2 separate regions of the Homo sapiens genome follow, and region 2 is linked to region 1. Evidence: fine-mapped expression QTL. A gene starts in region 1. The other region holds a variant in brackets. All regions are shown on one strand. Distances are from middle to middle. Region 1 holds the start of KRT19 (keratin 19). Region 2 holds the start of KRT34 (keratin 34).

Evidence for each region. PIP is the estimated chance that this variant, and not a neighbour inherited with it, causes the effect.
Region 2: its variant is fine-mapped to the expression of KRT19 in fibroblasts (GTEx, PIP above 0.99).

Annotation. Positions count from the first base shown.
Region 1 is chr17:41,524,404-41,532,733 of GRCh38, reverse strand. KRT19 (keratin 19) reads left to right here and starts at 4,426. Exons shown (of 6, transcript NM_002276.5): 1 at 4,426-4,906; 2 at 7,461-7,543; 3 at 7,735-7,891; 4 at 8,194-8,330. The coding sequence starts at 4,487. RefSeq lists a cis regulatory region at 1,878-2,730 and enhancers at 2,436-3,133, 3,134-3,831, 3,832-4,529, 4,530-5,229.
Region 2 is chr17:41,377,366-41,385,695 of GRCh38, reverse strand. It overlaps KRT34 (keratin 34), which reads left to right and starts at 3,390. Exons shown (of 7, transcript NM_001386014.1): 1 at 3,390-3,797; 2 at 3,901-3,983; 3 at 4,484-4,640; 4 at 5,965-6,126; 5 at 6,218-6,343; 6 at 6,520-6,740; 7 at 7,550-8,027. The coding sequence starts at 3,450. The coding sequence ends at 7,637. RefSeq lists an enhancer at 3,198-4,397. The variant C/G (reference allele first, on the strand shown) is at 3,764.

The DNA of each region.
Region 1 (8,330 bases):
ATGCGTAGCACAGAAGCTGCGCTTGATGCATGTTCACTGAATGAATGGAGGAGCGGGTGAGGAAGTTCCTTGTGCTGGTGGTCCCTGGGGAAGCGGAGGCCGTTCAGGTAAGGAGCTACTAATTGACAGGACATGCAAGCTCATGAAGTTTTCCACACATTTACCTTTCCTCTCCTCCAGATTATGAACAGAGCCTTCTGCTTTGCTCATGGACACGAGTCTGTCTCCTCTGCTAGGCTCAACTTGGAGGAAACTTGCTTGAATGGCCCACTGACTGACCAAACAAATAATTGTGCATCAGAGCAGGCAGGGCAAGTTGGGATCTTGGCAGATGATACAATGCCTTCCCCAACTTGGTGGCTCTTTCTCCAGGGCAGCAGAAGAAGGCACCTTGATCCCTTTCCCATGAGAGGAGGGCAGCATTAGCAATTGGGACTGTGGCTTGAGGGAGTGAAAGATTTTGGCCCAAATACCCAGTCCACTACTTACTTGTGTGACCTTGGACAAGATATTAACCGTTTTGAGCCTCAATTTTCTTGACTGTTAAATGGGGACAATAATACTTAATTAACATGATTCATTGAGATAATATATTCAGAGTGTTTAGCATGGAGCCTGGCCCAGTAGATGTTGGCTATGATTATCTACTGTATTATTATCACCTTGGTCATCATTATTCTTGTTGTCATTATCACACCATTCCATTCTATCCAAGGACTAGGTCTCTCACCCCCAGCTTCTTTCCTGTGGTCTCCAATGACTATCCCATTTCTCCTGGGATGATGAAAACCCCCCTACCTTTAACCTCTCCACTCTGGGAACCACCTGCATCTGCTGAAGGATAAGAAGCTTCATGTGTATGTCCAAGTGGAGAGGCAGAGGGGGCCTCAGCCTCAGTGTTAGGAGTTAGAAATGAATCCCAGATCTGCCTCAGTTCAGTCGGTTGAATCATCATGCGACCCCAGGAAAGTCACTTTACCTTTCTGAGCATCCTGGGGCTGGACTGGCTTTTTCTGTAATTCATGGGTTATTAATAGATATTTAAAGATTCCATGGTCCAGTGCACTTGGGAAATACTGGTTAAAGAAAGTTAAATAATAACACTTGTAGCCAAAATTATAGTAACAAATACTATATAAAAATAACATTATATAATAATAATAATAATGCTGTTTGAGTGCTATTTGCCAGGTGTGATAAACCTTTTACAAGCACCATTACATTTATCACTTGAAGCAACCCTCTGAAATAGGTATCCTCCTCCTCCTCCTCATCATCATCATCTCTATTTTACAAATGAGGAAATGAGGTTTCCAGGGCTTCTGGTACTGTGCCTTGTGAAACTCCAAAAGAGAGTCAGAGAGAGCAGAGTTTCCGATCTTATTTGACAGGGATCTTTTTTCCTGCAGGGATCTCATAGTGCTGGGGTTCTGTAGAATCCAGTTGGGGAAGGCTGGGCAGGATCCTCCCTGGGATTCCTTTGAGCTCACCATTCCATACCCATCACTTCTGACCCTCTGTACCCCTCTTCTGCAGACCCCAGACCTGAGACTGGAGACATGAACATTGGATGGATGCTCCTCTGACCAGGTTCTGCCCTCCTGAAGCCAGAGGCTGATGGGAGCCTCCTGGTTGTGAGCACTGTTTCCTAAATGGGAGCAGCAGCTTGACCTCCAGTTCCATCTCTGGGTAGGGCAGCCTCTACAGACTGTTCTCCTGAGTCCTTGATGAATCAGAAAGTGCCAAAGGCCACATACCTCATGGCCAGGCACTGTTTCTGGCCAGAGAGAGGGAACAAGGTATTCTCCCTAGCCCAGCCAACAGTTCAGTCTGGGGTTGACTGCCCTTGGCACTGGCATGATAAGATTTTGAGGGAAGGCACCCAAAGGAGTTGTTTTGGGGGCCGAGACTTCCTTGGAAGGGAGAGCAGGGCCTCCGTTACTCTTGGCTGATGGTCAAGAAGCTGGAGGCCAGAATCTGATACTCCTAGCGGTGGACCTTTGGCAAATTACTGCCTCTCACCAAGCCTCTGTTTCCTTATCTGTAAAATGGAGATAAGAATACCTTTTCCACTGGGCTGCTGTGAGGATCCAGTGAGATCTGAAAAGGCTCTAAACTGTGCTACCCTGTAGTCAACTGTCCTTCTGTTTATGGTCTTAGAGTAGGGGGCTGGGACTCCAAGTGCCTCTGAAGGTTAGGGAGCTCAGAACACCTTAATCTTACGAATGGAACTGTTGATTCTATTCTTTGCCCTTTAATACAAAGTCCCTCCCCAGACCCCCCTATCAGGCCAGAAAAACAGAGCTGCCTATTGGGGCTTTGTGTGCATGGCAACTATCTGGCCAATCTCCCTTCCCGCTAACAAGGAGCAGGCCTCCTCATCAGTGCCTGATAAGGGAATGACTCAGAGCTGACCAGTCACAGGGTGCTGGCTTTTATGGCTGGTCTTGGACTCCCCTTTCTCCCTCTTGGGCTCTCCAAAGACCTTCAGTCTTTCTGCAACTGATTCACTAGTTAAACAGCCTCAGACTGGCCTTCCTGAGGGCTCAGAGCGGTTCCTGGTGGGTTAGGGGTGTGTATTTACGGGGTTTCCTGCCCCAGTTCAAGGATGAGTTGGCAGCTAACAGGTAGTTTGCTGGGAACTTAGGTTTCCGAGGCTGGAGACAAGTCTCCACCAGTCACAGGTGACCCAGGTGATAATACACAGAGAAGAGGGCTGAGCTGGGCCACCCCTCTTTTCATGAGGGAAAACTGAGACCCAGAGATGGGCAGGGACTGGCCTGTCTCCCTTAATACCTTCTCAGGAGGGCCTCTGTTCCAAGCCTGGGTGAATGCTTTGCCATAAGGACAAGAAGGAACCATGGGGACAGTTCTGGGGACGGGGGTCACTGGGGACAGGAACTGGGGTGAGGTTGTTGCAGCGCCCTGTAGTGCCTGGCAGGGGGCATGGCCCTCCAAAGAGATCCAAAACGGTGGGTGGAATTGTTGAACAGAGCAAGGGGTGGGGCTGTGTGGGGAGGAAGGCCCTGCCTCTATTGTCAAAACCTTTACCTTGTGCCGGGCACTTTGTGTCGCTCTGCCCAGCTCATTCAAGCACTCATCTTTATACAAGGATGAGGACATGCATTCAGCAGCCCTCTGACAAGGAGGGCAGGGATTCATCCTATGTTTGCCTTTCAGTGGCAGATGCTAAATGCCTCATGGGCAAGTTACTGGCCTCTCCCAGGCTCTGCTTCCTCATTTTGGAAATATTAAAGCAGCCCAATACTCCTGTGGTTGAATGAACGCATGCTTTGGGGGATGGAAGGGAGGGGATCATCCTGGTGGCCAGGGACGAGTGGGCTTTGAGGGTTCCAGAGTGAGGATCAGGCTGGAGCTTAGTGTTGGAAAGGTGTCAGCTGCCAGAACCGCTCCCTGCAGCTGTTCTCAGGAGACTGTTGTCACCTGGGGCACTGAATGGCGACAGCAGGGTGAGGCAGCTTTGTCTTGAGAGGGCTGGGTTCGTGCAGCTCAAAATGCCCGGATGTGCCCTGATCCGGAACTGGTGCCTTTGTCAGAGGGGACAAAAGGGGAGTTGGGCATGGGTGTTCCCAAGAAGCTGGTTCTGAGAGGCTGTAATCTCCAGTGGAGGGCAGGAATCTGTGAATGCACTTTGTGGGGGGCGGGCTGGTTAGGATCGCAAGCAAGGGGCTCTTAACAGGGAGCACTCTGAATGGTTAATCACTGGGGCTGGGCGCAGGGGCTCACGCCTGTAATCCCAGCACTTTGGGCGGCCCAGGCGGGTGGATCACTTGAGGTCAGGAGTTTGAGACCAGCCTGGTCAACATGGTGAAACCCTGTCTCTACTAAAAATACAAAAATTAGCTGGGCGTGGTGGCGCGTGCCTGTAATCCCAGCTACTCCGGAGGCTGAGGCAGGAGAATCGCTTGAACCCGGGAGATGGAGGCTGCAGTGGGCCGAGATCACACCACTGCACTCCAGTCTGGGCGACAGAGACTCGTCTCCAAAAAAACAAAAACAAAATCACTGGGTCAGGGGTGTGTAGGAATATGACCCCAGAGGGACTGTAATTCCCAGTGGTGTCAAACTCTGGGTGATCTTAAAGGGTGAGGCTCAGAATGTGGCTTCCAGGGACAGGGGTGTCCAGGTATGTCCCTGACGGGGGAAAGGCCAGAACAGGGTCTGCAGAGAGAGAGTGGGGGAGTGCGGGTCGGAGCTTCTGCGCGGACCGGGGCGGGGCACCTCTGGAGGGCAGGGGCCTCTGGTCTCTGGGAGGGGAGGGAATTGACCAATGGGGAGAGAGCCCATATTTGCTCTCAGGAGCCTGCAAATTCCTCAGGGCTCAGATATCCGCCCCTGACACCATTCCTCCCTTCCCCCCTCCACCGGCCGCGGGCATAAAAGGCGCCAGGTGAGGGCCTCGCCGCTCCTCCCGCGAATCGCAGCTTCTGAGACCAGGGTTGCTCCGTCCGTGCTCCGCCTCGCCATGACTTCCTACAGCTATCGCCAGTCGTCGGCCACGTCGTCCTTCGGAGGCCTGGGCGGCGGCTCCGTGCGTTTTGGGCCGGGGGTCGCCTTTCGCGCGCCCAGCATTCACGGGGGCTCCGGCGGCCGCGGCGTATCCGTGTCCTCCGCCCGCTTTGTGTCCTCGTCCTCCTCGGGGGCCTACGGCGGCGGCTACGGCGGCGTCCTGACCGCGTCCGACGGGCTGCTGGCGGGCAACGAGAAGCTAACCATGCAGAACCTCAACGACCGCCTGGCCTCCTACCTGGACAAGGTGCGCGCCCTGGAGGCGGCCAACGGCGAGCTAGAGGTGAAGATCCGCGACTGGTACCAGAAGCAGGGGCCTGGGCCCTCCCGCGACTACAGCCACTACTACACGACCATCCAGGACCTGCGGGACAAGGTGGGCGGAGGCCCGGCCGCGGGAAGTGCAGTGCACCTGCCGCGGAAACCCAGCCCCGCGGGCCGGGCGAGGTTCCAGGCGGGGCGGCGGGCAGGAGCCCGTTAGGACGTGGGAAGGTCCACAGGTGGGGCCGAGTAAAGGGGGACAGGAGACGTGCGGGGCAGGACCTCGGGGCTGGATGCAGAGGCCGGGGTGGTGGAAAGGGGAGGAGAACTGGGCAGGGCAGATAAGTGGGTGGGGCCTCTGGAGGTGGCGGGGGCAAGGTTGGAGCCCCGGGACGAAGAAGGGACGCGGGTCAGCGAGGCCTGAAGAGTGGGAGGAGATGGGACCCGGCTGTAGAGTGCCCAGAGGTCTAGGCCAGGGGCCGCGCTGCCGCAGGAAGATGCGAGAGTTTGGCTTTGGTGATCTGGTCCACCCGGGGCCAGTCTTGCCCCCTCTGCCACCGCAGCGTAGGGCCTCCTGCATTCCGTTTCTCTGGCCGGAAGGGTCTAGTGTTCATCCCTCTCAGGCTTTGGCCTCCTCCCACTCTCCCGCCCTGGGGCCCATTCGTTTAGGAAGAATGGGAGAGCCGGTCGTGGCCCCTGGGCGGGGTAAAGGAGGGAGGCTTGGTAAACCTCTGCTGGGGAGGACCCAGTACAGTGGCAGCTCCTTGTCGGGGAAAGAACGGATCTGCGTCACACGCTCTTACAGGGGAACCCTAAGGGGCCTGAGGGGTAGGGCTTGGTCTCCACCCAGAGGGAAGGAGAAATTTTTCGAGTCGTAAAGAAATGTATCAGAAGCCATGGAACATTTACAGCCGCACACGCTGGGTCTCCCAACAAACAGATCCCCAAAATATTTTCCAGTGCTGTACTCGTGGCATAGACCCAGACCCACAGACCAGGAGGAAGCGCTAGAGATGTCAACAGCCAACAAAAACAGTGCTTTACACACTTGTAAAATTGTGACCTACAGGGGCTGGGCACTGTGGCTCACGCCTGTAACCCCAGCACTTTGGGTGGCCAAGGTGGGAGGATTGCTTGAGCCCCAGGAGTTCGAGATCAGCCTGGCAAACATGGTAAAATCCTGTCTCTACTAAAAATACAAAAATTAGCTGGGCGTGGTGGTGCATGCCTGTAATCCCAGCTACCTGGGAGGCTGAGGCAGGAGAATTGCTGGAACCCAAGAGGCGGAGGCTGCAGTGAGCCGAGATTGCGCCATTGCACTTCAGTCTCGGCCACAGAGCGAGAGTCCGTCTCAAAAAAAAAAAAAAAAAAAAAAAAAAAGGAATTAGCTTGGCATGGTGGCGTGTGCCTTGCAGCGAGCTGTACGTGATCAGTGCCACTGCACTCCAGCCTGGGGCAACACAGCGAGACCCTGTATCAAAAAAAAAAAAAAATTGCGACAATAAGTACATTTTACTACGCACCCTTACGCATTCTTTTTCTCACCTCTGTGTGTGTGTGTGCGTGCACATGCACACACACAAATGGGTGACACAATTCTCACCATACTAAGAGAAATCCCCTCTGATATTTTGTAGCCTATTCTGTTGCATTAAAAAACTACACAATCGGCCGGGCGCGGTGGCTCATGCCTGTAATCCCAGCACTTTGGGAGGCGGAGGCGGGCGGATCACGAGGTCAGGAGATCCAGACCATCCTGGCTAACACGGTGAAACCCCGTCTCTACTAAAAATACAAAAAAAAATTAGCTGGGCGTGGTGGAGGGCGCCTGTAGTCCCAGCTACTCAGGAGGCTGAGGCAGGAGAATGGCGTGAACCCGGGAGGCGGGGCTTGCAGTGAGCCGAGATCGCGACGCTGCACTCCAGCCTGGGTGACAGAGCGAGACTCTGTCTCAAAAAAACCCCAAAAAACAAAACCAAAAAACCCCCCCAAAACACAAAACTATACAATCACCACCTGGTGCCTTGACTAATGAGTGATGACCTGCTCTTTGAAAAACAGAACACAATTACCTTATTCAATGATAAGCTGGCTGTTGTGAATGCGCCTCTTAGGTCAGTAAGACCTCAGGTTGGGGTGAACTTGGATGAGGCATCATCCTAAACTTTAGTTTCCACCTCTGTAAGATAGGAGTACCCACTGACCTAGCAGTGAGGTTCCAGAAGCTATAAAAGATGAGATTCAAAGTGCCTGGCACATAATTGATACTCAACAAATGGGATTCTCTTCCCTGGGGGCAAAATATGCTTCGCATAGTGGGGGGGGCAGGTATAGACAAAATCTACCCCCCATCTGGTTTATAGACCCCCTTCAGGCCATTTAGAGTTTCATTGCACACAGGTCTCAGAGATTTCCTCCCCAGGCTTGCCTTCCTGCCCTCCCCCACCCAAGTCCCCCTGGCTCCAGTTTTCTTCCTGCCCCAGCTTCTGGGCATGGACTGTTTGCAAGGCCTCCCAGAGAGCGGGCCAATGGGCGGCAGATGCTGGCTAGGGCTTTGGTCTCTAGGGTGCCGGGGTATATTCATTTGCTCCCCTCTCTCTTCTGGGAAGAAAGTGAGTGGGCAGTGCCTGTGTGTTGAACTGGTACCAACCTCTGCCTCTGCCTTCCAGATTCTTGGTGCCACCATTGAGAACTCCAGGATTGTCCTGCAGATCGACAATGCCCGTCTGGCTGCAGATGACTTCCGAACCAAGTGAGTGTCTCTGTCCTGGGGGCTGCAGAAGCCAGGACTGGGGTAGGGGTTGGGGGGTTTAGAATCTGCCCTCACCTAGCCTAGATGGCCTGAAGCTAACCCCCCTATGGACTCCTGAACTCTGGGGAGGTAGGGAAGTCTTCAGAGATGCTGAGGAAGCTCTGCCTGGCTGCAACTATTTCCTTTGAAAGGTTTGAGACGGAACAGGCTCTGCGCATGAGCGTGGAGGCCGACATCAACGGCCTGCGCAGGGTGCTGGATGAGCTGACCCTGGCCAGGACCGACCTGGAGATGCAGATCGAAGGCCTGAAGGAAGAGCTGGCCTACCTGAAGAAGAACCATGAGGAGGTGGGTTTGAAGCTGGGCCTTTCTTCCATCCTTCCCTAACCTCCCAGGGCTGAAGACTCTTTTATTCTGTATTCTCTGACCGTGGTAACACTTGGTGCACCCTCACCATGGCCCTGGGTGTGGGATCATGGATCCCAGGGTTCCAAGAGGAATCAGTGATGACCCAGTCTGTCCCCCAGTGCTAGTTACTAGGCCTGCACCTGAAAACTAAGCCCCTTTAGCCTGAAGGGTGGGGAAGTGACCTGGGCCAGGCCCAGTGGGGTCTGGGCCCTGACATGCCCATCTCTGCTGTATCTTTACAGGAAATCAGTACGCTGAGGGGCCAAGTGGGAGGCCAGGTCAGTGTGGAGGTGGATTCCGCTCCGGGCACCGATCTCGCCAAGATCCTGAGTGACATGCGAAGCCAATATGAGGTCATGGCCGAGCAGAACCGGAAGGA
Region 2 (8,330 bases), 150 kb after region 1:
ACACTTGGCCCTCTACTATAAAATTTAAAAGATAAAAGTATTAAAAATAACTATAACTATAAAAATAGGTTAATGCATATGCAATATAACAAGATGTAAATAATGACATCAATACATAAAAGATGTGTGTGGGAGAAGCAAAAGAGTAGTTTTTGTATGCAGTGAAAGTTATCAGCTGAAAACAGACAGTTATAAGTTGTTTCATATAAGCCCTATGATGATCACAAAAAAATACCTATAGAAGATACACAAAAGAAAAAGAAAAAAGAATAAAAACATATCGATACAAAAATCCATGCAACACAAAGGAAGACAGCAAGATAGGAAAAGAGAGACAAAAGAACTCTGAGAAAGACAAAAGAATTAACAAAATGGCAATATTAGTCTTTCCCTATCAATAATTTATTGAAATGTAAATGAATTAAACTCTCCAATCAAAAGACATGGAGTAGCTGAATGGATTTTCAAAAAACCAACAAGTACTATCTACATACTATCTAGAAGAGACTGACTTTAGATTTAAAGACAATGTATAGGCTGAAAGTGAAGGAATGGGAAAAAAAATATTCCGTACAAATGGTAACCAAAAGACAGCAGGATGGCTGTACTTATATATCAGACAAAATAGTCTTTAAGTCAAAAATTGTCACAAAAGGCAAAGAAGAACATTATATAATAATGAAAAAATTCACCAGGAAGATATAACAATTGCACACATATATGAACCCAACATCAGAGCACCTAATATATATATAACAAACATTGACAGAACCAAAGGGAGAAATGGACAATGCAATAATAGAAGAATTCAGTAACTCACTTTTGATAATGAATAGAACATTCAGATAGAAAATCAACAAGGAAACAACAGATTTGAGCAATACTATAGAACAAATGGACCTAACAAATAACACGTTCTATCCAATGGTAGCAGAATGCATATTCTCCAGTGCATGCGGAACATTGTCCAGGATAGATCATATGTTGGGTCACAAAACAAGTCTTAACGAATTTAAGAGGATTGAAATCATACTAAGTATCTTTTCCTACCACAATGGAATGAAACTAGAAAACTAGAACGGAAATAAGAAAAAAACTGAAAAATACACAAATATGTAGAAATTAAAAAACATTTAAATAATCAATGGGTCAAAGAAGAAATCAAAAAGGAAATTAGAAAATATCTTGAGACAAATGAAAATGAGAACACAACGTATCAAAATTTATGGGATGCAGCAAAAGCAGTACTAAGAGGAAAGTTTTATATATGTATATACATAAACCTATATCTAAACATACACACACGCCTACCATGTACCTACAAAAATTAAAAAATTAAAAAAGATAAAGAACAAACTAAGCTCAAAGTTAGCAGCAGGAAGGATATAATAACACTTTTTGCTCTAAATTTTATTATGATACTTACGATAAAACTTAGAGCAGAAATAAATAAAAATAGAGACTAGAAAAACAATAGCAAAAAATCAATGAAACAGAGTTTTTTTGAAAGACACAGAAAATTTACAAACCTCTAGATAGACTAAGAAAAAAAGAGGAAACACTCAAATAAATAAAATCGAAGATGTGCTTTTCTGCTCCTCTCATGCTGCTTTTGAAATTCAGATGCAGCCTTCTTTAAATGATTTGTATTGTGTTCCACAAATAATCTTTTGGGACTTCTTTCTGAAACATGACTTTGTTTCCCTGCGGAACAAAGGCAAGGTAGAGTGACAGGGAAAAGAAGTGAGGTAGGGAAGGCTATTCTGTGAAGAGTGATTATTGGGCAATAGAGAGGCTCCCTAGGTTATGCAAGAGTCAAAGGGTAACTGGATCCCAGAGGTGATAGAAGCACACTTATCAGAGACAGTGTCTACTTGTAGGGACAACAGAGTAAATCTGCATTCTCATGGGCACTGTGGCTTGTCCTGGAAGCATCTCAGGCTGGCATAGTCATACCTCTAGGAGAGTTAATACTCTAGAAAGAGGAACAAGTCTAGAAATAAGATGATAGAAATTTCCAGAGAATTTGAGAAAAAGCCACCATGGATACAAAGATACCTCTGAGCACCCTTGCTCCAATTTTCGTTTCTTGGTGAGTCTGCAGTATTATGCTTCATATTCATGCTTCAGTGCTGCCATCTGAACTCTCACTGCTCCAGACTGTTTCCAGCATATTTTTTCTTCTAGATATTTCTACTCTTGCTCATCTTTAGAGAGGCTGTTGCTTTAGTACAAGTTGGCAAATTTTTTAATTTTAGGGCTTTGTGGACACTATAGTCTCTGTCACAACTACACAACTCTGCCACTGTAGCACAAAAGCAGCCATATACAATAGCTAAACAAATGGGCATGGCTGTGTTCCATTAAAACTTTATTTACTGCCGGACGCATTGGCTCACGCCTGTAATCCCAGCACTTTGGGAGGCCGAGGCGGGCGGATCACGAGTTCAGGAGTTCAAGAGCAGCCTGGCCAACATGGTGAAACCCCATTTCTGCTAAAAACACAAAAATTAGCCGGGTGTGGTGGCGGGCACCTGTAATCCCAGCTACTCGGGGGGCTGAGGCAGATAATTGCTTGAACCCGGGAGGTGGAGGTTGCAGTGAGCCGAGATCGTGCCACTGCACTCCAGCCTGGGCGACAGAGTGAGACTCTGTCTCAAAAAAAAAAAAACAGAAAACAAACAAACAAAAACTTTATTTACAAAAATTCAGCAGGGTAAACTTGACGTGTGGGCTGCCATTTGCAGATGCCCTCTTTTAGGTATACTCCCATCCATTCCATTGGTTTCCATTTTACTTTCTCATTTCTCAACCATGAACATGCCATTGTTTTCAGTTGCTCCATGTGTTGGCAAGTTCCCTAAACCCCAACGAATAGTAAGGCTCAGGATCATTTCGGCGAATACAGGTTGAGTTTCTGCTATAAAAACAAATTGAATGCTGAAACATGGATGAATGTGGGAGGAAAGAGCTACTTGGAAGAGTAACTCTCAAAGCTCTCTCTCAGAGCTCTCTCTCTGGGGAGAAAGAACAGTGGCGGAAACTCCTGGGTGAGGAATCCCTGATTCCCAAACAACTCCACCCCATGTCCCTGGCTGTCCTCCCCTCTGAGTAATGCAGACAGCCTTTTGGGGCTGTGATGATTCTATCTCCTATGAAGCCATCTGATGAAACTCTGATTTCACCAACCACTAGCACCCAGGAAGAGCCTGGTGTGACATAAGCTGAATGGAATAATTTTATGGGTTGAGGGGGGACTCTTTAGAAGCATCTAACTAGCATATTTTGGAGAAAAATTAGCTGAAGCATTAGGAAAGGAAACTATGCTGTATGCCAAGCCCCCACCCACAATTAATGGTATAAAAGGACTGCAGAGGAAGGAGAGACTCAAACCTGCCCACATCCACCTCCAGCAGCTTACCTGCTTTTCCATTACCTGTTCCAGCACCATGTCTTACAGTTGTTGCCTGCCCAGCCTGGGCTGCCGCACCAGCTGCTCCTCCCGGCCCTGCGTGCCCCCCAGCTGCCACGGCTACACCCTGCCTGGGGCCTGCAACATCCCCGCCAATGTGAGCAACTGCAACTGGTTCTGTGAGGGCTCCTTCAATGGCAGCGAGAAGGAGACTATGCAGTTCCTGAACGACCGCCTGGCCAGCTACCTGGAGAAGGTGCGTCAGCTGGAGCGGGACAACGCGGAGCTGGAGAAACTCATCCAGGAGCGGTCCCAGCAGCAGGAGCCCTTGCTGTGCCCCAGCTACCAGTC[C/G]TACTTCAAGACCATTGAGGAGCTCCAGCAGAAGGTGAGGGGGTTGGCCATATGGGGGGCCAGCAGCAGCTGGCTCTCTTTGAACAGTAAGACATTTTCAAGTTCAAGTGTACCTCATGAGAGAAATTTCTTTTCAGATTCTGTGTGCCAAGGCTGAGAATGCCAGGCTGGTGGTGAACATTGACAATGCCAAGCTGGCCTCTGACGACTTCAGAAGCAAGTATGTTGAACTTCAAGGTCCCTATGGTTCTTTCATGGCCCTAGGGACCTACTATTGCCTGGAAGAGAGGAGAAAGCCATTTCTCTCTATTTCTCCTCCTAGGGCTGGTTATGTAAAATTAGTTTCAAATAGGGAACTAGACTCATGTGCTGCCTGCTCTTTGGTCTATACTGGTTTTTTTTGGAAGTGTTTCTTAAACCACAAAATTCAGAGATTGAAATGAATTGTTCTTTGGGAATTGATTTGGTGGTATATTAGCTAACAAAACCGAGAACACAGTGAGAGACTTCATCTCATGTGTGCCTGTGGGCTCCTCGTGGTGTTAGGTGAGTCAGGGAACCTCTTCAGCCTATCCATGGACAGCTTGACTGAAGCATATGGAAGAGAAGAGGCAGAAAACTGTAAGTTCAAGAAGATTCAGGCCAATTCTACCCAAACAACACATGAGAGGGGAAGGTGGTTTTCTTTCCTGACTTATCCTCCCACTCCGACACGTGCAGGTACCAGACGGAGCAGTCCCTGAGGCTGTTGGTGGAGTCGGACATCAACAGCATACGCAGGATCCTGGATGAGCTGACCCTCTGCAAGTCTGACCTGGAGTCCCAGGTGGAGTCCCTGAGGGAGGAGCTGATCTGCTTGAAGAAGAACCATGAGGAGGTATGAAACAAATTCACAAAAGCAGGCCTCAGAACTAAGCTACTAGCACTGGGAATCAGGAGAGGATTACTGTCTGGATCCCTGGTCTGGGACCCTTCTCTGAGGAACTCAAGATGTTCTCAGAGAGTGACGGTGCTACATCCATATCAAGGAGTGGAGTGAGCTGCTCATTCTTCAGCGGCTGGGTGAGGGTTAGGCAGGTGTTGGAATTACTGAGGAGGGACATCATTCATTGAGCCCTGCTCTCTGCTGATCACTGCTAGGTCCTGAATTTGGTGGTGGAGATGGAGGGACAAAAAAGAAATAAGACATGGCCCTTTTCTTAAAAGAGCTCACAGTCTAGTATAGAAAGACAGTCATATAAACACAGTGATATAAACAAGACAGAGTGAAACAAGTACCATATGAGATGTACAAGCAGTATGCTCTAGAAATAATCCAGGCTGCCCAAGAGGAGATAGGGAACTCTTCTCAGATGCAAAGAGGAGGATTCCAGTACTTGGGTGTTTCAGTCTGAGGGAAGAGGTTGAACAAAGACACAGAAGTGGCAGGGCAGGGTGTATCTGGGTATGGCTGGGCATGCAGTACCTCCAAGGGATGAAAGTGAAGATGTGATGGGAAGCGAGGAAGGACTTGCATATGCCAAGGAGTTTAGACTTAGTCTTGTAGAAGGTGTGAGGTTGTTTCCGTTTCTATGGGACAACAATTGACGTGATCCCTGTTGGAGTTTATTGCTATAAAATGTGTGTGTCACTCTTTGGGAATGATCAGAATCTTCCTTTTAGTGCTTTTTTTTTTTTGACGGAGTCATGCTCTGTCACCAGGCTGGAGTGCAGTGGCGTGATCTAGGCTCACTGTAACATCCGACTCCCTGGTTCAAGTGATTCACTTGCCTCAGCCTCCTGAGTAGCTGGGATTACAGGCACATGCCACCACGCCCAGCTAATTTTTGTATTGTTAGTAGAGATGGGGTTTCACCATGTTGGCTAGGATGGTTTCGATCTCCTGACTTCGTGATCCACCTGCCTCTGCCTCCCAAAGTGCTGGGATTACAGGCTTGAGCCACTGTGCCCGGCCCCTTTTAGTGCTTTCTGGGCAGCATCAAGCTCATTTTCCCAGAGCAGGAAGATGGCACATCTTCCATGGGACAGCAATTGATGTGATCCCTGTTGGAGTTTATTGCTATAAAATGTGTGTGTCACTCTTTGGGAATGATCAGAATATTCCTTTTAGTGCTTTTTGGGCAGTATTGTGCTCATTTCCCTGGAGCAGGAAAATGGCAGATCCATTGCCGTAGGTTCATTGTTTCCCTTTTCTCCAACAGGAGGTTAACACCCTGCGCTCCCAGCTTGGAGACCGCCTCAACGTGGAGGTGGACACTGCCCCCACTGTGGACCTGAACCAGGTCCTGAACGAGACCAGGAGTCAGTATGAGGCTCTGGTGGAAATTAACCGCAGGGAAGTGGAGCAATGGTTCGCCACGCAGGTGGGCATCTAAGCACATGGCCACTCAGGACCCGAGGTGCCCCAGGGCCCTGGAGACAGGGTCTGATCCTTTCCCCACTTGGGTGTTTCAGACCGAGGAGCTGAACAAGCAGGTGGTATCCAGCTCAGAGCAGCTGCAGTCCTGCCAGGCGGAGATCATCGAGCTGAGACGCACAGTCAACGCCCTGGAGATCGAGCTGCAGGCCCAGCACAACCTGGTGTGTATTGTTCAGACCTGCTGGTGAGCGATGGGAACTTGGGAGGCAGAGTCCCGGGGATGTGCTTGGGGCCACACACTCTCCTTAGCTCTTGGAGCTTGTGACTTCCTTGTAATCCTGTGAAGAAACCCTTTGAAGGAGCAGCTCTCTGACATTCCTGATCTTCCCCACCACAGCGAGACTCTCTGGAAAACACGCTGACGGAGAGCGAGGCCCACTACAGCTCCCAGCTGTCCCAGGTGCAGAGCCTGATCACCAACGTGGAGTCTCAGCTGGCAGAGATCCGCTGTGACCTGGAGCGGCAGAACCAGGAGTACCAGGTGCTGCTGGACGTGCGTGCCCGGCTGGAGTGTGAGATCAACACGTACCGGAGCCTCCTGGAGAGTGAGGACTGCAAGTGAGTATGGGGCAAATAATGTCTGGGAAGAATGTGTACAGTGGGATATTGTAGGCACACAAATGGTGGCCATGTTTTCAACTAGTCAGGCAACACACATTAACTGTGTAGCATGTGTCCAGTGATCTGTGATAGCTAAGCAAAGGGAGGCCAAAGGTAAGGGAACAGCCCCTATCTCAGGGGGCTAACAATGGAGGAGTGGTGGCAGGAGCTGGCCAGTTGTAGGAATAACATTTGTGTAAGGCACATTAAGTTCCAGGAGACCTCAAGAGTATGAGATAATATTTTTGAAAAGCACAATTTTTCCACCTCTGCACATGGCATTCTGGGAGAGAGAGAAGGGTTTGGTAGTAATCAGAACTTGATTCTGGCTGGGTGCAATGGCTCATGCCTATAATCCACTTTGGGAGGTTGAGGTGGGTGGATCACTTGAGGTCAGGAGTTCAAGACCAGCCTGGCCAACATGGTGAAACCCCATCGCTACCAAAAATACAAAAAATTAGCCAGGCATGGTGACGCATGCCTGTGATCCTAACTACTTGGGAGGCTGAGGCAGGAGAATCGCTTGAACCTGGGAGGCATAGTGAGCCTTGGCTCCCACTTGCAGTGAGCCAAGATCGCACCACTGCACTCCAGCCTAGGCAACAGAGCAAGACCCTGTCTCAAAAACAAAACAAAACAAAACAAAAAGAACTTGATTCCAACTAACTCCAGCCACTGAGAATTCATAGGTTGTGTCATTAAGCCCAAGGTATTGTGTGCATTAAAACCTCCTCCTAAAGCCATTCTAAACCTCCTTGTCCTCCTAGGCTCCCCTGCAACCCATGCGCCACCACCAATGCTAGTGGCAACTCCTGTGGACCCTGTGGCACCTCTCAAAAGGGTTGCTGTAATTGAAAAGCTTGTATCCTCTTTGAAGACATCTACAAAGCCATTTAGATCAACCACAGGAAGGATCCTCAAGTCCTGACTTTTCTGGAGCTCAGCTGACATCAAGAAACCTCATCTTGCCTCTATGTTATTTCTAGAATGCTGAAAAGCTTTCCTGACCCAAGCAAAGACACACATCATCAACTTCCAATGTCTGGACAACTCCTTCCTGTTGAGGGTCGAGCCTGTTTGTTTCTAAAGATGTTCAGCTCCCTGTAATCTGAGCTCCAGTTACTACTTAAGGTGTTTCCTGAACGTACTACTGCATTTCCTGTTTTCCTTTTTTCTTTGGCATTCTCTGGAATGCAAGGAGGAGACTTCATTTACTTCCCAATAAACTTCATTTCTCTGGCATAATAAATGTTTCTCATTCATATTCATGCATTGTAAATTACTCATCATGGCTGTTTCATAAAAATACCCCTTCATTAGGAGAATAAAATGAAGTAAATGACTGAGCCAAGCCTTTATGCTTCACCAGAAACACTGATGTAGACAGGGAAGGACGTCCTTCTGGGAGACTCCCACCCAGGGTAGGCCATGCAGGAAACCTGGCCTTCAATACCCATGCTTACCTTGCCTTGACTACAGGGCCCTTGGCAATTTTGCAAAGCCTCCCCAGACTTCACTGCTATCTCCAGCTCTCACCCTCATCAGAAT